2 linked regions of the Homo sapiens genome follow. The protein of the gene in region 2 interacts with the protein of the main gene of each other region in a pairwise test. Each region holds a gene or a part of one and is shown on either strand. Other genes may lie near its edges.

What was found. The genes of interacting proteins can lie anywhere in the genome.
Region 1: the proteins of TMEFF1 (region 2) and MLH3 interact in a two-hybrid assay, tested with the Homo sapiens proteins (one large-scale study listed by BioGRID).

What each region holds. Positions count from the first base shown.
Region 1 is NC_000014.9:75,027,436-75,030,971, forward strand, and holds part of MLH3 (DNA mismatch repair protein Mlh3), read right to left. Parts: intron 3,281-3,536; coding exon of another isoform or gene 3,268-3,280; coding exon 3,108-3,267; exon of another isoform or gene 3,107-3,107; intron 1-3,106. UniProt on the Homo sapiens protein: Probably involved in the repair of mismatches in DNA.
Region 2 is NC_000009.12:100,471,647-100,475,967, reverse strand, and holds the start of TMEFF1 (tomoregulin-1 precursor), read right to left. Parts: upstream 2,820-4,321; 5' UTR 2,424-2,819; coding exon 2,228-2,423; intron 1-2,227.

The DNA.
Region 1 (3,536 bases), on a different chromosome or scaffold from region 2:
TTTTGGTAGAGACAGGGTTTCACCACGTTGGCCAGGCTGGTCTCAAAACTCCTGACCTCAGGTGATCTGCCCGCCTTGGCCTCCCAAAGTGCTGGGATTACAGGCATGAGCCACCATGCCTGGCCCACGGACTCTTACTAAAATAACTTCTATTTATTTTTATATTTTTGTATTTTTTGTCTCAAGATCTGTTTGTGGATAAAAGATCTTGTAAGAGATTTACTTCAGTAAAAAAAAAAAAAAAAAAAAAAAAAAAAAACCCAAAAGAACACAGAATAAGTAGGATGCAAGAGGCAATGGTGAACAAAGACTCTGGTGAACACTTTTTTTAATCTAAATAAAGATTGACTATAAAATAAATGACCACCAGGGAATTAAAAACAAGGTGGAATTAAAGTACTAGACAGCAACATGGAAGATGGGAGGAGGGTGATGGGAGATGAACAGTTTGTAAGATTTTGGTACAGTTAGGAAGAGGATAGAGAAGTGAATTACTTTTAAACTTTGATAAGTATGCATGCTAAAAGTTAAGGCTAATCTCTAAAAGGATATAAATGGAATATATAACTTCTAAACGAGTAGAGCAAAAAAAAAAAGAGAAATACAGAAAACTATAATAGAAAACAGGAAAGGAGAGGAAAAAGACAATAAAGACAAAATAAATGATATTTGCTATAAAAAAAGAAACATATAAGTAATCAAAATAAAAAGTAATAGTTCTCTCTAATACCTCCAATGCCACAGCCCAGCAGTAGCTTTCCAAACCTTTACCAAAACATATATGTAAAGTAATCATATTTGGAATGCAATCTAAAATGGACCTTACTCTCCTGCTTAAAAGTTTTCACTGGCTGCCTATAGGATAAAATGCAAACTACTTAGTAGAATATGCTAAATTATTTTATGATTTGACCTTGACAACCCATCTAGCCAACTCCCATCCAGTCAAAGATCCAAGTATAACTTCTGATTTCCCCCCAATTTTTTTTTTTTTTTTTTTGAGACGGAGTCTTACTGTGTCACTCAGGCTGGAGTGCAGTGCAGTGATCTTGGATCACTGCAACCTCCACCTTCCGGGTTCAAGCAATTCTCATGCCTCAGCCTCCCAAGTAGCTGGGATTACAGGCACATACCATCATGCCTGGCTAATTTTTTAATTTTTAGTAGAGACGGGGTCTCATCATGTTGGCCAGGCTGGTCTTGAACTCCAGACCTCAAATGATCCGCCCGCCTTGGCCTCCCAAAATGCTGGGATTACAGGCGTGAGCCACTGCACCTGGCCTGATTTCCCCAAATCTTAACTACCAATAGCCTAACGTTGATCAGAAGCATTACCAATAATATAAACAGTTGATTAACACATATTTTGTGTGTTGTATATATTACACACTGTATTCTTACAATTAAGTAAGCTAGAGAAAAGAAAATGTTGGCCAGGCGTAGTGGCTCATGCCTGTAATCCCAGCACTTTGGGAGGCCAAGGCAGGTGGATCATTTGAGGTCAGGAGTTCAATACCAGCTTGGCCAACATGGTGAGACCCCATCTCTACTAAAAATACAAAAATTAGCCGGGGCATGGTGGTGTGCGCCTGTAATCCCAGCTACTTGGGAGGCTGAGGTAGGAGAATCGCTTTAACCCGGGAGGTGGAGGTTGCAGTGAGCTGAGATTGTGCCATTGCACTCCAGCCTGGGCATCGCAAAAAAAAAAAAAAAAGAAAGAAAGAAAGAAAGAAAGAAAAAGAAAATGTTAAGAAAATCATAAGAAACAGAAAATATATTTATTATTCATTAAGTGGAAATGAATCATCATAAAGGTCTTCACCCTCATCATTTTCACATTGAATAGGCTAAGGAGGAGGAAGAAGAGGAAAGGTTGGTCTTGCTGTCTCAGGAATGGCAGAGGTGAAAGAAAATCTGCATTTAAGTGTACCTGCGCAGTTCAGACCCAAGTTATCCAAGGATCAACTGTAGATCTTAATTTGAGCCATATCTATTGATAGTTCCCTAAACATAGGATGTATCTCAAGTCTCTGATATGTATTCCTCTGTCTAGAATGCCCTTCTCCCCTCTTCTGTACTCAGCACTTTCCCACTATTCTTTTTTTCTTTTTTTTTTTGAGACAGAGTTTCACTCTTGTTGCCCAGGCTGGAGTACAATGGTGCAATCTTGGCTCAATGCAACCTCCGCCTCCCAGGTTCAAGCCATTCTCCTGCCTCAGCCTCCTGAGTAGCTGGGATTATAGGCATGCACCACCACGCCCGGCTAATTTTCTATTTTTAGTAGAGATGGGGTTTTTCCATGCTTGTCAGGCTGGTCTCGAACTCCCGACCTCAGGTGAACCACCCACCACGGCCTCCCAAAGTGCTGGCATTACAGGTGTGAGCCACCTTGCCCAGCCTAGTTTCCCACTATTCTGTAAGACTTTTCTGGCTGTGTGCAGTGGCTCATGCCTGTAGTGCCGGGGGTTTGGGAAGCCAATGCAAGGGGATTGCTTGAGGCCAGAAGTTCAGGACCAGCCTGGGCAACATAGTGAGGCCCCCATCTCTACAAAAAAAAAAAAGGAAAAAATTAGCCAGGCATGGTGGTGCGTGTCTGTAGTCCGAGTTACTTGGGAGGCTGAGGCAGGAAGATTGCTTGTGCCCAGGAGATCAAGGCTACAGTGAGCTATGATTGCACCACTGCACTCCAGCTTGGGCAACAGAGTGAGACCTGGTCTCTCAAAAGTAAAAACTTTTCTTAAGAAAACAGCTTTTCTGTGACATTTTCATTGACTTCACCTCCCCAGGCACACAAGTCATTCTGTGTTTCCATAACACTTCTGAAAAACTATCTTGGTGCATTCTAGACTCTTAGTTTTCATTACCTTTATCACTGGGAAGAAAGCAAAACACATACCTCTACTAGCCAAAGTTCACTGACTATAATTCTTTAAATGCCCTTCTTCCTTATTTTGAGCTAACTCATCTCTGAATTTCTAGCTCCTGGCACACCGCAGGTAAATACCATGAATACTTGTTGAAGAAAAGATGAATTCAGAGAATCTACAGACAAAATATGAGGTTACCATCACTCAGCAATTTCCTTAACATCTGCAGCTGTGTCTTACCTCCACAATACTCTTGGTCACAGTAGATCTTCCTCTCCGAAGTTCATTGGCTTCTCTTTCCACAAAACATAGTGGTACTTTTCCCACAAGGACCAGAGAATCACTAGTGTCTGGAAATACAAATTCAAGGCCCAGATCTTCCAGATTTTTGTGGTAACACCTAAAGAGATAACCTCAAATGTTAAAAAAAAAAAGAGTGCTACTTCATTTGCACTTCACTACTGGTTCCAAATACTACTTAATAGTTTTTCAAAAGCTGCCACAGGGCTTAACAACCGTATTGTTTTTCTCACACTTATGTGTGGGTGTTTGGGATTTTTTATTATCAAATTTCCTTTTTGAATTACAGTAACCTTTATTGTTTTTCTCTTTTCCATTGGGAATCAATCTGTGTCTAAGTCTTGTTTCTAAGTGTGTTTTCTTCATTGA
Region 2 (4,321 bases):
ATGACCCCTAGATCAGTCCCCTTTTTCCCACACTGCATGTCACCCACCCCTCCTCTTCAATGCATAGTACCCCAGGGTGACTAACTGAGCCCCAGGCTTCACACGCACACACACCACACAAAAACACAGGTTCACTTCTCCGGCCCTGGGACTTTCCTGCCCATACCCGAGGTCACTCCAAGCCCCTACATTCCATCTTAGAACCCAAAGAACACACACACACACACACACACACACACACACACACACACAGTCGCTCTGCATCACCAACCCACATCCTCAAGGGTATCCATCCCTCTATTTCTTTTATTTCCTTTCTTAAAACTTGAACTATGCAAGTTAGAAAGTACACACAAAAACATCCCATCAAGACACACTATATTTTGCTAAGAACGAATTAGCTTAGCAAGAACAAATACCCGCGACACATTAGCTGGAAAAATATTGACATGGTGCGATCACTTACAAGTTTGATAATTAATATTTGTTACATAAAAAGGCACTCTAATATACAACTGGTTTTTATTCTTAAAGTATGATTATGTAATAAAGCATTACCCCATATCCCGTTCAACATCAGAAAAATAACAGAAAAGTTTTTTCACGGATGGAAATGCTTTTAATGGACATGCCATTGTTTACTGTGCTCAAAACTGCCATTCCCCTCATAAAACATTACCATATGAAAATTATTAAAAGATTTAAGGCCTTCAAACCTAAATAGCGGGCCAAAGGCTTGCTTCATTTAGGGTAGCATAAGCATCTGCGCTGAGACTCTCTTGCTCCTTCCTCACTCTTCCAGAAATAATGCCCCTTCAAGAGCCCAAAAGTATAAAGGTTGTCCGGCAGATTCCCAGTGGCCTTATGTTCCTCCCTCCTCCCCCTACTCCGCCTTGGTTTAAAGAAGACAAGAGAAGGCTCCAGAATTGATAAAAGGGCAAGTTAGCAAGGATGTGGCTTATGATCACTAGCATCTGCTAGGCCAGCTCCAAGAAGACCCTCCACTCAAAAAATGAGACCTGAATGCCTGTCTTTGCCCCAGGGCCATAATCCTTGTGCGCCTCTGGGACCCCTTTAGAAATGAAGAGGAACTTTACTGCTGGGACCCTCCTCCCCAGTGTTATCCACTAAAGCCTCAGCAAGCTCTTTGTTTCCAACAGCTGTGGGGGGGCAAGCGGCCTTGGAGAGAGGGGAGAGGTCACTCCCTTGCTCCCCGCTGCTGCCAGAATCCAGGCCCTCCCGCAAAACACACACACACAGGCACGACATCTTCCCTGGGACCCAATTCTCTCTTTCCACACTTTAATAACCCAGGGTTACACCTTGCTACACAAGGGCATTCCCTGAGACCTAATTTCCTCTTTCTACATCCAAACCCTACACAGGATGATGACTCCCAAGCCTCCTCCCCTTTGAAAAGACATAAATGGGGTTCGCTATAGGGCACCCATCCCTCCTCTTCAATGCATACCCCAGGGTGACTAACTGAGCCCCAGGCTTCACACACAACACACAAAAACACAGGGTCACTTCCTGGGCCCTGGGACTTTCCCCGCTCATATCCACAGACCCGAGGTCACTCTAAGCCCCCAGATCCCATCTCAGAACCCAAAGAACACACACGCGCGCGCGCGCGCACACACACAGTCACTCTGCATCGCCAAACCGCGTCCTCAAGACAACCCGTTCCCTTTATCCACACGACCCCCACCCCCGAGACCCCCAGTGCCTTAAGGAAGAATCTCCCCAGCACATCAGCACATGGTCACTCCCCTGCCCTCACCCCGCCCAGCCCCCTCGCCGTCTCCCACCCACCGCACTCTGCACACACACACACAGATCCCTGCCTGGGGCCGCCCTCCCTCCCCTCAGCCTTCACAACACAAACACACGCTCCCGCGAGCACACCCACGACCACACCGGGAGCCCCGGCCGGCCGCTCAGCCTCGCCGGCCCCGGCCCCGGCCCCACCGCCTCCCCACACGCCGGGCCGCCCTCGCCCAGCCACTCGACACACTCGGACGCACCCACGGCCACTCCCATCCCCAGCGCCGGTCCCAAAGCCACACCGCACGCTCGCGCCCTGCCCTCCGCCCTCGCTCACCCTCGGGCCCACCCCTGGGACCCCCACGACGGGGTCTTTCCCAGCCCGGCCGACCGCAGGGACCACGAGGGAGGCGGCAACGGAGGGGTGGGAAGACCTAGGGCCGGCTCCGACCGGTCCTACCTGAGCAGTTGATGCTCTTGCCTTTGCCGCCGGGACAGTCCCCGCCGCTGCCGCCGCCACCACCCGGGGGCTGGTTGGACGCGCGGCTCCCGGGCAGAGAGAAGGCGAAGAGCAGAAGCACCGACGTGTAGCAGCAGAAGGCGAGCGGAGGCGCGGCAGGCAGCCGGAGCGGCGCCTCAGCGGCTGCGGCGCCCATGACTGGTGCCCCTGGACGGCGGGAAGCGCAGGGAGCCGCAGGCCGGGGGCATCCAGCCGCGCGCCCAGAGCCCCGCCGCTGCCTCGGTGCCTCCTAGCAGCCGCGCCGCTGAGCCGGGGAGCAGCCCGTCAGCATCCCCGCCCCACCCGCAGCGTCCGCCAGGCCCGGGCCCGCGGCGCTCGGGACGGAGTCGGCGGGTCCGGGCGCGTGCGAGGGTCGCGGGCGCGCAAGGGTGCGCGCGAGGGTGCGAGCCGGCGTGGGGGACACCGCGGCGAGGGGAGCGGGCGGGCGCGCGCGCGGCGGGCGGGGGTCGCGGGCCGGAGGCAGGCCCAGCCTCTTGCTCGCCTCCTCGCCTTCCCTTTGTGTCCGTGGCCGTTGCCACCGCGTCACAAAGACCCCGGCCCGCCCGGTGAGGGGCGCGTGACGGAGCCGCCGGCGGGAGGGGTGGCTGCGACCCCGCCCCGCGCACACCCCCAGCTCCCGCGCCGACAGCTCCGCCCCCGGCCGCGGCCGGCGCCGCCTCCAGGGGAGCTATTGTTCCTGCGACAGGGCAGGGGCGCGGGGGCCGGGGTTGGGGCCACCCCTCGGCGGTAGGCTGCACCGTAGCAGACTTGTTTGCCGCCCTTTGTGAGCTGTTTTTGAAGCGTTTCCTTCGCCCAGCAGCAGGGCTGGGAATGAGGGCAGGTGGTCTGTCATATATCTATAATAGTTTTTAGGTGGAAGAAACTGAGTCACGGAAGAGGTAAAGGTGACTTGTCCAAGGTTGCATACCAAGAAATGGGCAGGACCAGGATGGGAGCCCAAGTTCTGACTCTAGCCATGCAGTTCTCAGAGATGTTGGGTGAATGGTTAGATTTCTAGGTTCCTCATCCCCACCTCATTCCCGTAGACTCACATACAAGTGAGTGAAAATAGTTTTACAAAAGTCTGTGTTGCCCTCTCCCCCTAACAAAAGCTGAGATTCAGAGAGGATTTTCTAATATACAAGGCCTGGTGAAAGCTCTTTATGTGCATTCTCTTCAATTATTTTTTTACAGGCCTCGGAGGGAGTTTTCGTTCTTATCTCCATTCTACAGATGAGGAAGTAGGGACCCAGAGAGGCAAGGTGATCTGACTCCCAGTCCAGTGCTCTTCCTACCACATCCTGCTAGGTGATAACTAGACATAGGTACTAAGATCATGGACTGAATTGTGTGAAAGTCCTCTGCCTTTTTCATTCTATTATATTGCATCCCACCCCAGAAGGAATTTTAAGTCTCATTGAAAAACTGATCAATTTGATTCATAAAATTAAGAAATGTGTGAAAAGCCACCGCAAGCAAAGCCACATTAGGAAAAATGTCTTCAGTGCAAATATGAGACAATATACTTAATATAAAGTTATATGTCAAGAAGAAAAAGTTAACATAATAGAAAAATAGGAAGCTTGACTCTTATTCACAAAAAGTACAGACAATAAATACATGAAAACAGATTTGAACCCACTAGTAATAAAAGATTAAAACCACAAAACTCTGGCCAGGGGCAGTGGCTCACACCTGTAATCCCAGCACTTTTAGAGGCCGAGGTGGGCGGATCACCTGAGGGCAGGAGTTCGAAACCAACCTGGCTAACATGGTGAAACCCCGTTTCTACTAAAAATAGAAAAAATTAGCCAGGCATGGTGGCGCGCACCTGTAACGCCTATAATCCCAGCTACTTAGGAGGCTGAGGCAGGAGAATCGCTTGAACCCGGGAGGTAGAGGTTGCAGTGAGCAGAGATTGCACTATTTCACTCCAGCTTGGGCAACAAGAGCGAAACTCCATCACACACACACACGCACACACAATTATTTTCCCTTTGGATGATTAACAAGAGTTAAAAGAATTGGCAGACTGAGCACTACTAATTTATACAT